Linked DNA regions of Homo sapiens. The protein of the gene in region 1 purifies or fractionates together with the protein of each later gene. This does not show direct contact. Each region holds a gene or a part of one and is shown in the gene's direction. Other genes may lie near its edges.

Evidence for each region. The genes of interacting proteins can lie anywhere in the genome.
Region 2: the proteins of DOCK5 (region 1) and GPN2 purify together in Homo sapiens (affinity purification with mass spectrometry; 2 studies listed by BioGRID and IntAct, with this or other methods). This does not show direct contact.

What each region holds. Positions count from the first base shown.
Region 1 is NC_000008.11:25,362,668-25,369,689, forward strand, and holds part of DOCK5 (dedicator of cytokinesis protein 5), read left to right. Parts: intron 1-379; coding exon 380-474; intron 475-1,958; coding exon 1,959-2,037; intron 2,038-4,202; coding exon 4,203-4,303; intron 4,304-5,524; coding exon 5,525-5,583; intron 5,584-5,903; coding exon 5,904-6,058; intron 6,059-6,888; coding exon 6,889-6,974; intron 6,975-7,022. UniProt on the Homo sapiens protein: Guanine nucleotide exchange factor (GEF) for Rho and Rac. GEF proteins activate small GTPases by exchanging bound GDP for free GTP. Along with DOCK1, mediates CRK/CRKL regulation of epithelial and endothelial cell spreading and migration on type IV collagen.
Region 2 is NC_000001.11:26,887,272-26,894,708, reverse strand, and holds the start of GPN2 (GPN-loop GTPase 2), read left to right. Parts: upstream 1-4,425; 5' UTR 4,426-4,612; coding exon 4,613-5,023; intron 5,024-5,583; coding exon 5,584-5,740; intron 5,741-7,437. Other genes in the region: GPATCH3 (G patch domain-containing protein 3), read left to right, coding at 299-473, 1,261-1,320, 1,918-2,039, 2,171-2,298, 3,483-3,699. UniProt on the Homo sapiens protein: Small GTPase required for proper localization of RNA polymerase II and III (RNAPII and RNAPIII). May act at an RNAP assembly step prior to nuclear import.

The sequences.
Region 1 (7,022 bases):
TGTTGGCCAAGCTGCCCACCTCGGCCTCCCAAAGTGCTGAGATTACAGGTGTAAGCCACTACACCCAACCCTCCTTCCTACTTTCTATGCCCTTAAGTGAGTCCTTTAGTTTTTCTCAGCCTCAGTTGTACCATTTGTAAAATGTGGATGATTCTTTTTGTCCTCATCTTCCTTATAGGGTCCTACAATATAAAAATCAAATTGCATCACAGCCAGCTGTAAGAATGCTTTGTTATTCCTAAAACCCTTGAAAGATGGGCTGTTACTGTGGGGCTAGGAACATCCTGTTCTGAGGTTGTGGTTCTGCTTGTATACACGCCAGAATAAAGACTATGAACGTAACCCAGTTTTCCCCCAACCACTCCTCTGTTCTCCGCAGGACTTCCTCATGGAAACTTTTATCATGTTCAAGGACCTGATTGGAAAGAATGTCTATGCCAAAGATTGGATGGTGATGAATATGACTCAAAACAGGTGAGACAGCCCATGGCTGGCCCTGAGGCATTTGTCTGAATACCTAAGGCTGCTGTGTGAACTTTGGGAAATGTCTTTAAATCCCTTTGCCTCAAACCCATCATCTGTAAAGTGAGGATCTTCCTGCTCCAGAGGTCCTAATTTATGTGCTCGTGATCTTGATTTTCCCAGGGTAATTGCCTTTGCTCCACCTCGGGCTCTCTACTCCCTTCTCTAGCGTCGTCTCTTCAGTGCTCTCATGGTAATTGTCATCCTCAACTCTCCACTGCACCTTTCCGTGGCTCCACGTGGCCTGTGTCATCCTGATATTCAGGGCTCACCAGTTAGTGTCTGTTCTATGACCGGTCCATGATGTATTTAACCAGATTCTTCTTATGAACATTTAGATTCTTTCCATTTTCTATTAATGTGAAATAGCACTGTCATGGCCTTCCTTGCTTTACATATTTAAAAATATCCATGGTTATTTTATCAGGATATACTCCTAAAATAATTTAGTAGTTCAAAAGTTTGGTGAAATTATAGGGCTTTTGATACACAGTGCCAAACTAACTAGTTGCTTCTGCTACTTCCCTGTGTATGCTACCTGTACTCCAACCAAACTGGCCTCTGCCCAGTCCCTGAACACATGGTCTGCTCTGCCTCACACCGGTCTTCCGCTAGCAGTGCCTTCCCCATAACCTCTGGCTGTCAGCATTCCAGCTATTCCATAAGGTTCTTCTGAAGCGTCACCTCCAGAGGAAGCCTTTCTGACCTGGATGTCATCTCTTCTTCCTTCGATTTTCCATACCCCATTCAAACCTTCTTATAGAATTGTTTTCAGATTCTATGTTGGGTAATAGATGTACATGTTGTTAATTTCCCCAACCAAGCTGTAAATTTCTTAAGATCAGAAACTGTGTCTTTCAACACAGACGTGAGCCTGTGCCTTGCAATTGCTAGCCCACAACAAATACTTGTTGAACAGAAGTGAAATGAACTGAATATATATTATATTAAAAGAGTGTTAGAGTTTAATGAGATAAATAAACCATTATTGTAAGCATTATTATTAACTCTACATGATACCCAATTCTGAGTAATTCTACTCTAACACCTGATTAGAAGAAGCCTTCTCTGCTATGTACAGATTAGATTTAAAAAATTACACCAGAAACCCTAAGCTTAAACAGAAGGATCATAATAGAGTCTATATATATTACCCTCCTCTGAGGCTTAAGAGTCCTGGTTTGCAGTCTCAGATCTACCTTCAATTACCTAAATTGGGATGTGGCCCTGAGTGGCTCTTCTTGTTTGTTCTGTAAACTGACCTCCTGTGCCCCATCTGCGGATGGTGTTATGCTGTTGTCTGCAAGGACACTGTTAGATTATGAGGTCTTATGATGCCAAGTTCAGGTTTGGTTTGGTTTAGTTCTTAATATAGGTGGGAAAAGGTTTCAAAGGACATACAGTTGGCTTCTTTATCTGGTGTTTTCCTTCCGCAGGGTTTTTCTCCGTGCTATAAATCAGTTTGCTGAAGTTCTCACAAGATTCTTCATGGATCAGGCAAGCTTTGAACTTCAGGTAGGCATGTGACTCACCTACCTGCTTCTAGAATTCTTGGCCATGGCAAGAGAACTATATGAATTTGGAAAATGTCTCCTCAGATTTCACTGTTTTCACATGAAAAAGGTTTTCCTGTGTTTTTTCATTTCCTAAAGCACATATGCCTGTCACACTGTCCTCCAAACACAACAAAATAGGGGTGGTTTCTTCTTTCTATAAAGGTAACATATGTAAAAAAAAAATCTTAAAGAGTAATAGTAGAAGATCAAAAATATAAATAGTCCTCCTTGTCGCTATAAACATTTGGAGTTGACCCTTTGTATATTTACACAAATGCACATAGACACACATGGCTACAAATAAGCACACAGGTAACTCTCCTACCGACAAATGAGTTTGGTTCTAAAGAACAGTTCTTATGCACAGTTTGTTGAAAGTCCAAAGGAATTGCAAAACGGATGACCGCTAGCTCTATTTTCATTCATTCATTCATTTACTTATCCATTCATCCATTTAACAAATGTTAGAGTACTTACATGTACAGGGCCCTGTTTTGCGCCCTGGTAGGGGCATTTCCCTGGTGAAGGCAGATAAGTTCCTTGCTGTCATGGAGCTTACCTTCCAGAGTACTCTGCATTTTGTGGGTGATGTGCTTTCTGTGTTCTTTGTCTTTGCGTGTATCTGTGGAACTGTTATCAGTGGAGGTCCTTGACTACAGATTGTCCAAGTTCTTGACGTTTTGAACAAAATGCACAAACAAAGCAATGAAAGAATGAAGCAATAAAAGCCAGATTTATTGAAATGAAAGTATACTCCACAGAGTGGGAGCAGGCTCAAGCAAGTAGCTCAAGAGCACTGGTTACAGAATTTTCTGGCGTTTAAATACCCTGTAGAAGTTTTCCCATTGGTTACTTGGTTACACCCTATGTAAATGAAGGAGTAGCATGTGACCAGTCTGACCCTCCCACCAATTGTGGGAGGGGACTAATCAGAGGTACTTTCAATTTTTCATCTGCCACAGAGTGCAAAGGGGTAGCCTCTGATCCTTTTGTTACTTGGGTGTGGAGAGGTGGGGTTTTCCTTTTGATTCAGTTCTAGGAAGTCAGTGTGAATTGGCCTTCAGTGCCCTGCCTCCAGGCCCTGTTTTCCTGCCTCAGAACTTTAAAAGTTGAAAATCATAAGTAGAGGAAAGTATACACACATACACACACAGAGATGCATGCACATATAGATGAATATATATTGTATGTATGTGTATGTATATTTGCCAAAATGGAATTGAGCTGTGCAGTTCTTTGGTACTCTGTTAATCTGTTTTCCTTTTTCAATGATCTGTGATCTTTTCAATAATGTTGAATATTTTCCTGTTTTTAATGGCTGAATATCATCTGTTCTATGACTGGTCCATGATGTATTTAACCAAATTCTTCTTACGAACATTTAGATTGTTTCCATTTTCTATTATATTAAATAACACTGTGATGGACTTCCTTCCTTTAAATATTTAAAAATATTCGTGCTTGGCTGGGCACGGTGGCTCACGCCTATAGTCTCAGCACTTTGGGAGGCCAAGGCGGGCAGATCACCTGAGGTCAGGAGTTTAAGACCAGCCTGGCCAACATGGCGAAACTCCATCTCTACTAAAAATGCAAAAACTAGCTAGGCCTGGTAGTGGGTGCCTGTAATCCCAGATACTCGTCAGGATAAGGCAGGACGCTTGAACCTGGGAGGCGGAGGTTGCAGTGAGCCGAGATTGTACCACTGTACTCCAGCCTGGGCAACAGAGTGAGACTCTGGATCAAACAACAACAACAAAATTCATGGTTATTTCATCAGGATAAAGTCCTAAAAGTGTTTACTAATTCAAAAGTTTGGCAAACTTTTAGGACTTTTGAAACATAGTGCCAAAGTACATACTATAAATAGATACACTTCTTGGCAGCAGTTTTCCTTTATCCCAGGAGTAAAGAAAAATATAATAGCTTAAATTTTTTTAAAAAGCTTAACATTAAGTCTCAAAACTTTTAGGATTGAATAATCAAAACCTAAGAAGAATGTAGATTGTATTTTGTTCTTTCATTAATCTCTTGTTAATGACTTTTTACCATGTGACATTGTTTTATTATGGCCCTTATTAATGTTATTTTTCATTTCCCTTTACCCACACAATTAATTTTGAACAGCTCTGGAACAATTACTTCCATTTGGCAGTTGCATTTCTCACCCATGAGTCCCTTCAGCTTGAAACCTTCTCACAAGCCAAGCGCAACAAAATTGTTAAAAAGTAAGTGTCCTTTTAAAGTTAAGATCGGGAAGGGGCTTCTTCCATTTGTTTACATTGAGAGCAATATTTTAGGTATCACAGAAATTACTATTTAGTGGCTACCCATGTTGTTAGTGAGGTAAGTCTTCAACTAATTACTTAATAGGCCTCACATTCACCCAGGTTCAGCTCTCTTTTCTTAAGGCCCAACCATCTTCCCATCAGTCATCCCATGCTTTTTATCAAATCTGTACCTGGAGACGGACCTTGGCTGTCAGCTTGCCCATCCCCAAGAACAGCTGCGCCTCTGCTGGCAGCTTCCCCAAATTGCAGGCATAGTACCTCCTCATTCATAGCGCTTCACAAAGCACACTCCTTCAGCACAGTTGCTCCACCTCCCTGCCATTTCAGCAGAGAAAGCCAGGTCTCAGACATTGCATTAAAATGCCCTCCAGATTCCTGGTTTGGAATTCAAAATGGAATTATGTGCAGAAGTGATAAGAGATTTAGGGAAGCATTTCATTTCATTGAGAGACTGGAATCCAAAGACCATGTCGTTAAAAAATAACTTGAGGAATGTATTATTTGAAGACTTTGAAATTTTAGTTGTGTTCCCCTTGTTGGGATATCTGCGATATGTAGGAAAATTATTTAGTGTCCCTCTACTTCTGGTTCCTCCCTCAAAAACTGCCTACATATACAAAAACAGCAAAGTATTTTTTGCTCCCAAGGACCAATATTTATCCCTTTGTGGACAGTATCACTCCCATTGAGAGTGCATGGTGTAGAGCCTTCCAATGTGAATATTTTGAAAAACACGCTAGAATGGATGTATATTACCCCAATATCAGTCTATAAAGTATATAAGTATTTAGTCACCTGTTAGGCATTAGTCACAGTACTGTATGATCATACTTCATTCACCTTCCTTTTCATCAGTGTTTGCCGTGTTTTGTTTGGCTTTGTCTGTGCCTCACTCTTCTCCCTGAAGTGAGTTTGTTAATCTCATCTTCTCAGCTATTTTTCAGCGTTTCCATTTGGCTTTATTGCGGCACAAGGTCCCCCGGCCTCTGTGCGCCTCATTCCTTTTGGGGGCTCGTTTAGGTATGAACCTCATCTCTTAAGGTTGGGCCTTAAGAGTGACCAAGAGAGACACAGACTGTTTTTACTTTCCTTCTTATTGTGTTTATGCAATTCATTTCTACTGAAAATCCTCCTTCTAGTTTATGATCTTCTTCCTAGATATGGGGACATGAGAAAGGAAATCGGCTTTAGAATCCGGGACATGTGGTATAACCTGGGTGAGTGTCTAGCCTTGAACAGGCCTGATCACAACCTCTGAGTGATAAGCATCCCACGATAAAGTCTTTTTTTTATTTTAATCCAGATAACCCTGAGATGTATTTGTCTGTGTGTCTGGAAGTGAAAGTTGATTTGTGGGTTTCATTGACAATGAACTGTCTCTTACTCTGGCATCCACATGCTATCAGAATCTGAGTCACTCACTTCTGAATTGAGTTGTTTTAACCTTTTCTTTTCTTATGGAACTTGTGGAGGAAGATTTTAACACTTTACTTTCAGTGAAATAATTTTTTAATATCTTCATTCACTTTCATTTCAGGTCCCCACAAAATCAAATTCATCCCATCCATGGTGGGTCCCATTCTGGAGGTCACTCTGACCCCTGAAGTAGAGCTCCGGAAAGCCACAATCCCCATTTTCTTTGATATGATGCAGTGTGAGTTCAATTTCAGTGGAAATGGCAATTTCCATATGGTAAGAAGTGGCAGACCGCGTAATATTAGTAAATGGACATATAGTCAAATCATAACTCATTTCTTTCTATATAGAGAAGCAGTAACCTTAATAATGCAAGTCCATGTTGATCTGAAAGTTCACTTTACATTTCATTTTATAAAGCAATTAGAGATAGAGTCAGACAGTGCAACCCAGAGCCTGGAAAAGATTTTTTTGCTACATGTCTTTCCTAAGGCAACACCTGTCTGTAGAAAATTAAAGGAAGTTAACTTCATGCATTTTAATCCTAGCTGTTTCAGTATAGCCTAGAGAATAATGTAGTGAATTGAATTTAAAAACCTATCTATTATAGTACGGCTGAAAGCAGTGCAATGGATTAAGTTCTAATCCATTACTCTGTAGCTTTGAGAATGTCATTTTCCTGGTATGTCTTCTCTGTGCCTCTGTTTTCTTATCTACAAAGTGTATTAATATTGAAAGGACGATTTCGCATCTATGAACCTCTGCAAAAGCAATCTCACTGCAGAGACTTAGACATGAAACTGAAGTAAAATAGAAAAACAAGAATTATTATTCTATTTTTATATGAATAGTTGTAACAGAAAGCAATGTTTTGGATAATATGTTTTTAATCAAATGTAATGCAAAGGACAAAGTAACATGAGACTTTGTTAGAAGATTTTGATAGGGCCTTGGTGCACAGTTTATGAGTGACCCTCTGTGATCCTCCCTGTCTGTGCTGGAAACAGTTCACAACTCAGCGAATGGGTTGGCCAAGTCTAGAAAGTTGGCCATGTCTTCTTCTAAGGATGCAACATTATCCTGTGAAATTCTGCCTCTACTTTCAGTTTGAGAATGAGCTGATCACAAAGCTGGACCAGGAGGTAGAAGGGGGCAGAGGAGACGAACAATACAAGGTTCTTCTGGAAAAACTGTGAGTATTTCAGGAACGAAACCTGAAGTCAGTGGTGTCATTTAGTAA
Region 2 (7,437 bases), on another chromosome or scaffold:
AGGAGGATTTAATCAAGTGGAGAAGAGAAGGGTGTGGGAGAGGAAAGTGGGTATTTCAGGCAGGGAACAACATGGCCAAACGCGCAGAGGTGAGTCAGGCTTGTGGGGACAGGAGCAAACTGTTGAGAATTATCGGGCTGGAGACGTGTTGGTCAGGGGCCAAATATGTGCTGCTTCTTGGAGAAATCTGAAGGAATGGCGCTGAGGCTAGCCACACATGCCTCCTGTGCCCTGAGCTTCCCTCCCTCGGGGCATGAGGTCAGGAAGCTCAGGCAAATCACCTCTCCCTGCCTTTTAGGACGATGACCGGGGTGAGGAATGGGAACGGCATGAAGCGCTGCATGAGGACGTGACCGGGCAGGAGCGGACCACTGAGCAGCTCTTTGAGGAGGAGATTGAGCTCAAGTGGGAGAAGGGTGGCTCTGGCCTGGTGTTTTATACTGATGCCCAGTTCTGGCAGGAGGAAGAAGGAGGTAATGCTGGTACCCAGGCAAAGGCAGGGGTGACCCCTGCTGCATTCTTTTGGGGTTCCCTGTTCCACACGGTAGATTCTGTAGTGGTGAGCCCAAACAAAAGGCTAGGGAACAGGCTGACCTCTATTGTATACGAGAGACCAATCATCCTTTTTAAGAGTGGGGATCAGTGAGATGGAGAGAAAATGCCCCCCGCCCCGCCCCCAACAAATTCTGAATAACCCTCCCAGAGGAAGGATCTTAAAATACAAACAAGCTGGGTGCAATGGCTCATGCCTGTAGTCCGAACTACTTAAGAGACTGAGGCAGGAGGATCACTTGAGCCCAGGAGTTCAAGGTTGCAGTGAGCTATGATTCCACCACTTTACTCCAGCCTGGGGGACAGAGTGAGACCTTCTCTAAAACAAACAAATGCCCCGCTGGGTGCAGTGGCTCACGCCTGTAATCCCAGCACTTTGGGAGGCTGAGGTGGGCAGATCACGAGGTCAAGAGATCGAGACCGTCCTGGCCAACATGGTGAAACCTCGTCTCTATGAAAAATACAAAAATTAGCTGGGTATGGTGGCATGCACCTGTAGTCCCAGCTACTTGGGAGGCTGAGGCAGGAGAATCACTTGAACCCGGGAGGCAGAGGTTGGAGTGAGCCAAGGTCATGCCACTGCACTCCAGAATGAGATTCTGTCTCAAAAAAAAAAAAAAAAAAAAAGCCAAAAAAACTCTAGGTTTAACTCTTAATAGAACTGAGAGTCCTTAATGTACTCTGTTGGATGCTTTTCTGTCCCTACAGATTTTGATGAACAGACAGCCGATGACTGGGATGTGGACATGAGTGTGTACTATGACAGAGGTACTGGGCAAGGAGTGGCAATACTGGAGGTGAAACAGGTGCCCTGGCCTTGCAGTGACACTTTACCAGAGCTAGCAAAGGCTGAGACAGGGTACCGTTCCCGTTCCCTTGGGGTAGCCCACTGAGAGGGTTCCTCTTAAAACATCTTTGGTTGTGTACATTAAGTGCTAGTTTTGGACAGAGCCTTCATCCTTTCTTGGAGGAGGAGGAGGGATAGATAGCCCTTAGGGGCTCTAGGTCTGATGGTCAGGCCCTGGTAGGGTGGGCTGGTCAGAAGCTCAGGCTCTAGTAAGGGTTTAGATTTTAGAAGAGGAAATGACCCGGGTGGGGGAAATAGCCAAGTAGGGGAGGGAAGACCTGGGTTCTAATCCTCTCTCTGTCATTTGTTGGCTCTGTTACTTTTCTGCACCACAATCTTCTCATCTGTATGATTGGGGAGAGCCATGGTTCCTACTTTTGGGGAGCTCCCAGTCTAATGAGAGAGATACAGAACACTATTAAAATGAATAAGTCAATCTTACGAGGGGGTCCTAGAAACCTGATTCTTCCCCCTTCTTTGAGAGGGACGCTTCCATAAACTGAGCTCTGTTTCCTCAGATGGTGGAGACAAGGATGCCCGAGACTCTGTCCAAATGCGTCTGGAACAGAGACTCCGAGATGGACAGGAAGATGGCTCTGTGATCGAACGCCAGGTGGGCACCTTTGAGCGCCACACCAAGGTGAGTTAGCACTGTGCCCACCCCATGGACCCCTCTCTTTTCCTTCTCTACTTTAATTCCTTCTCCCATCCCCATTCTCCCTGCTCCCAGCAGGAGCCCCATTTCTTGAGTCTTGTCCCTTCACTCTGCAGGGCATTGGGCGGAAGGTGATGGAGCGGCAGGGCTGGGCTGAGGGCCAGGGCCTGGGCTGCAGGTGCTCAGGGGTGCCTGAGGCCCTGGATAGTGATGGCCAACACCCCAGATGCAAGCGTGGATTGGGGTAAGTGTGACTGAGGGACTTCCCTGGGGGCCCAAGCCTTTCAGCTATGCCCTGGTTTCCCTCTTCCCACTGGTTTTGGCATGGCTGCTGGGTACTCGTGCGGGATGAAATTCAAAACAGTTAAGAGGAAAAAGTGGATCTGGGCCAGGCACGGTGGCTCAAGCCTGTAATCCTAGCGCTTTGGGAGGCTGAAGTGGTAGGATTCCTTGAGCCCAGTTTGAAACCAGCCGGGCAACATATGAGACTGTCTCTGTTAGAAAAATAAAAAGTCCGGGCGTGGTAGCTCACGCCTGTAATCCCAACACTTTGGGAGGCCCAGGTGGGCAGATCATTTGAGGTCAGGAGTTAGAGACCAGCCTGGCCAACATGGTGAAATCCCCGTCTCTACTAAAAATACAAAAATTAGCCGGGCGCAGTGGCTCATGCCTGTAATCCTAGCACTTTGGGAGGCTGAGGCGGGTGGATCACGAGGTCAGGAGTTTCAGACCAGCCTGATCAAGATGGTGAAACCCTGTGTCTACTAAAAATACAAAAAATTAGCTGGGCACGGTAGTGGGTGCCTGTAATCCCAGCTACTCAGGAGGCTGAGGCAGGAAAATCGCTTGAACCCAGGAGGCAGAGGTTGCAGTGAGCCAAGATGGCGCCACTGCACTCTAGCCTGGGTGACAGAGCAAGACTCTGTCACAAAAAAAAAAAATTAGCTGGGCATGGTGGCATGCGCCTGTAGTCCCAGCTACTCTGGAGGCTGAGGCAGGAGAATCGCTTGAACCCAGGAGGTGGAGGTTGCAGTGAGCCGAGATCACGCCATTACAATCCAGCCTGGGTGACATAGTGAGACCCCATCTCAGAAATAAATAAATAAATAAAGTAAATCTGACTTTTTTTTTTTTTTTAAAGAGTAAGCCCTAAGGCTTAACAAGATCATTCATACCCTTTGTTGGAGGAGTTTGGACTTGATGGTTACTATTAGGAAGTCTGTAGTGACAGAATGAAAATTTTATATGAGGCCCCTTCTTGCTGGCACTGTCAATGGATAGATAAGAGGGCTGGAGAACAAAGACCCAGATTTAAAGCCTCTGTCTTTGGACAAACCAGATATGTAGTAACTACTTCCCCGTCCTCTCCCAACCCCTTTAACTGGAGTTTGAGAGCAGCCTTCTCACTGAGAGCCCGTTTTTATCCAGGTACCATGGAGAGAAGCTACAGCCATTTGGGCAACTGAAGAGGCCCCGTAGAAATGGCTTGGGGCTCATCTCCACCATCTATGATGAGCCTCTACCCCAAGACCAGACGGAGTCACTGCTCCGCCGCCAGCCACCCACCAGCATGAAGTTTCGGACAGACATGGCCTTTGTGAGGGGTTCCAGTTGTGCTTCAGACAGCCCCTCATTGCCTGACTGACCGGGTTGGGGGCTTCCTTTCATAGCTACATGATGAAAACCCTCTGCCCTGGCCTCATCTACCACTGAAGCAGAAAGGAGTCTGGGAGCAGCAGTCTTCGTGGCTGGTTCAGGGTGTTTTGTTCCGAGCCTGCCTGCCTGCCGGTTCTATACCTCAGGGGCATTTTTACAAAAAGCCCCCTCCCGTCCCCTCCCCTTGGATATTAGGGGTAACGACCGCTTGTCTTTGGTCTCTAACCCTAATCTCTGGGCTTGCCCTTTGCCTCCTGCAGAACTTTGAAAAGCTGGGTTGAGTGAGGCTATCAGCACAGCCTTCCTTGGGGACTCTGAAGGTGTCCCCACGAAGGCCAGAAAGGGGGAAAGGGACCTGGGCGAGGAGAGGATTTGTGGTGCTTGGAAGAGCCGGCCTTGGGTGGGCCCTCCACCGCCTCTACCCTCACTGGGTGGGACTGCCAGCGGAGAGTCCGCGGGAGGTGGCTTGGGTGTGCGACGTCACGGAAGAATAAAGACGTTTACTACTGGAGCTCCCTTACTTTTCTAATTCGAGTCTGAAGGTTAGAGAAATTCCGAGAGCGATTTTCCCGCAAAGACCCCACATTCGACCCACTACCCGCGAGAGAAATGCGGCTGCGCCGCCCGCCCCTCGGCGTCTAGCTTCGTCCCCGCCGTGAGGGCGGGACTTCCTCTCGTTGGCTCGCCGTTTCCGACGCTGTCCGGAAGTCGAGTTAGTCTAGTTAGTATCGGCCTGTTATCTCCTTTTGCGCGACACGGTCTCAGCTGTTCCGCCTGAGGCGAGTGACGCTGGCCGCCAACGAGGTATACGTACTGGGACCCTCGCCCTCAGTCTCGTCTCCGGCGCGGCTACCTGCCCCGTTTTCCCTGTGAGTTGACCTGCTCCGGGCCGCGGGCCGCCAATGGCAGGGGCCGCTCCGACCACGGCCTTCGGGCAGGCGGTGATCGGCCCGCCGGGCTCAGGGAAGACCACGTACTGCCTGGGCATGAGTGAGTTCCTGCGCGCGCTGGGCCGGCGCGTGGCGGTGGTGAACCTGGACCCGGCCAACGAGGGGCTGCCGTACGAGTGTGCCGTGGACGTGGGCGAGCTGGTGGGGCTGGGCGACGTGATGGACGCGCTGCGCCTGGGGCCCAACGGCGGCCTGCTCTACTGCATGGAGTACCTGGAAGCCAACCTGGACTGGCTGCGTGCCAAGCTCGACCCCCTCCGCGGCCACTACTTCCTCTTCGACTGCCCAGGCCAGGTGGAGCTCTGCACGCATCACGGCGCCTTGCGCAGCATCTTCTCCCAAATGGCGCAGTGGGACCTCAGGGTGCGTCTCAGGGCGGGGAGGCCCATTTTGCGGATGGAGTAACTGAGACAGGGAGGACAGACGCCACGCCCCCATGTCACACAGGGAGGTAGGGGCTGGGTCGCTTTGGAGTAAAACAGGCATGAGTTCAGAATCTGGCTCTGCTACTGACTGGCTGTGTGGTGTTGATAAGTCAGTTCATCACTCTGAACCTCAGTTTCCTCACGTGTAAAATGTGTTAGTAGCCAACTTGGCGATTTTGGAAGTATGGAAGGGGTTAATGTCGAAAGTGGCATGGAGATTGTTGTAAATTGGTGGGCAAAAGTAAATGAAAGAGTGGAGTCAGATGCCATGGGATTTAAACCCCTTGCCCACTGGGAGGCTCAGTGCAAGACCTCTTGTAAGAAAAAAAAAATGACTCCTATTTCCTGGGAGAAGGAAACCAGGGTGGTTATTAGAAAGAAACAGAGGCAGGAGACTAATGGGGAAAGCTTCCCCTCTGTCCTCAAGCCCTCATTCTCATGAGGGAATGCTGATCCCTGTTTCTCCAGGCCACTCTCACCCTGTCTATTCCCTCCCAGCTGACTGCCGTCCACCTCGTGGATTCTCACTACTGCACAGACCCTGCCAAGTTCATTTCAGTACTGTGTACCTCCCTGGCCACCATGCTGCACGTGGAACTGCCCCACATCAACCTCCTTTCCAAGATGGACCTCATTGAGCATTATGGGAAGCTGGGTAAGAGCTTCTGTTCCAGGCGAAGAGCAGGGCAGCAGCTGGGCTAGAATGAAGCAGACATCTCAGCTGAAGGTAGCTGCCTCTGGTGCCTTGCGTGGTCTGGTGATAGTAGCCACAGGCAGGTTCTAACTCCTGCCCATTTATTTTGTGCCACTCTGTGCTAGTTACCGTTGTAGATTTTGGAGACAAGAGAGCTACAGATGGTGTTAGGTGTTACAAAGGAATTAAAGTGATACGACAGTGAATATTTGGGAGTGAAGTGAGTGAGCTTTGGAGTAAAACAGGCATGAGTTTAAATTCTGGATCTGCCACTGAATCATCGTGTGGTCTGGGTAAGTCAGTTCATCTCTCTGGACCTCAGTTTCTCACTTCTGCTCTGAAGCAGTGGCATCTGAGCTGAGACATGAATGGTGAGAAGGAGCCAGCCAAGGGAGGACTGTTCTATGCAGAGGCACTAGTAGGAATAAAGGCCTTGTCTTAGTCAGTTTGTGCTGCCATCACAAAAATACCATAGACCAGATGGCTTAGCCAATAAATATTTATTTCTCACAGTTCTGGAGGCTGGTAAGTCCAAGATCAAGACACAAGCCGATCTGGTGTCTGGTGAGAGTCTGCTTCCTGGCTCCTAGACAGCCTCCTTCTGTCCTCACAGAAGGAGGCTATATTCTCACCTGGCACAGAGACAGAGAAGGGGTGGGAGGCCAGGGACAAAATAGGGAAGATTGAGGTAGAAGCAGGCTGGTATGAGGCAGGGGAGTTGGCTAGAGTCCCAGTGGCCAGCTTTTTTTTCTTGATAAATTAGTACTCTCGGCTGGGCGTGGTGGCTCACGCCTGTAATCCCAGCACTTTGGGAGGCCGAGGTGGGCAGATCACCTGAGGTCAGGAGTTCGAGACCAGCTTGACCAACATGGAGAAACCACATCTCTACTAAAAATACAAAAAAGTAGCCAGGCATGGTGGTGCATGCCTGTAATCCCAGCTACTCGGGAGGCTGAGGCAGGAGAATCGCTTGAACCTGGAAGGCGGAGGTTGTAGTGAGCCGAGATCTCGCCATTGCACTCCAGCCTGGGCAATAAGAGTGAAACTCCGTCTCAAAAAAAAAAAATTAGGCCAGGCGCAGTGGCTCACGCCTGTAATCCCAGCACTTTGGGAGGCCGAGGCAGGTGGATCACGAGGTCAGGAGCTTGAGAACATCCTGGCTAACACTGTGAAACTCCGTCTCTACTAAAAATACAAAAAATTAGCTGGGCATGGTGGCGGGCACCTGTAGTCCCAGCTACTCAGGAGGCTGAGGCAGGAGAATGGCGTGAACCCAGGAGAGGGAGTTTGCAGTGAGCCGAGATCATGCCAGTGCACTCCAGCCTGGGCGACAGAGCAAGACTCTGTCTCAAAAAAAAAAAAAAATTAGTACTCTCCTGAACTGGGGACATTGTTCCCTAAATAGCATCTCTAGCAACAAAGGAACCTAGAGAAGACAGATAAAATGACCAGCACATGAGCAATAGGGAGGTTGTTGGGAAAGGGAGGTGTCGGGACCTTGTCCAGGGAGGCCAGTTAGCTTCTAGTCTGGACATGGAGTGATGTAGAGTCCTCAGCTTACTTTAGGATAGAGCTGCCAGGGAGCCCAGATACTTAAGTTTTCTGGGCAGAAACAGGCCACTAGGGGGAAGTCCAACTTACTTCTTTTAGTGAGAAAT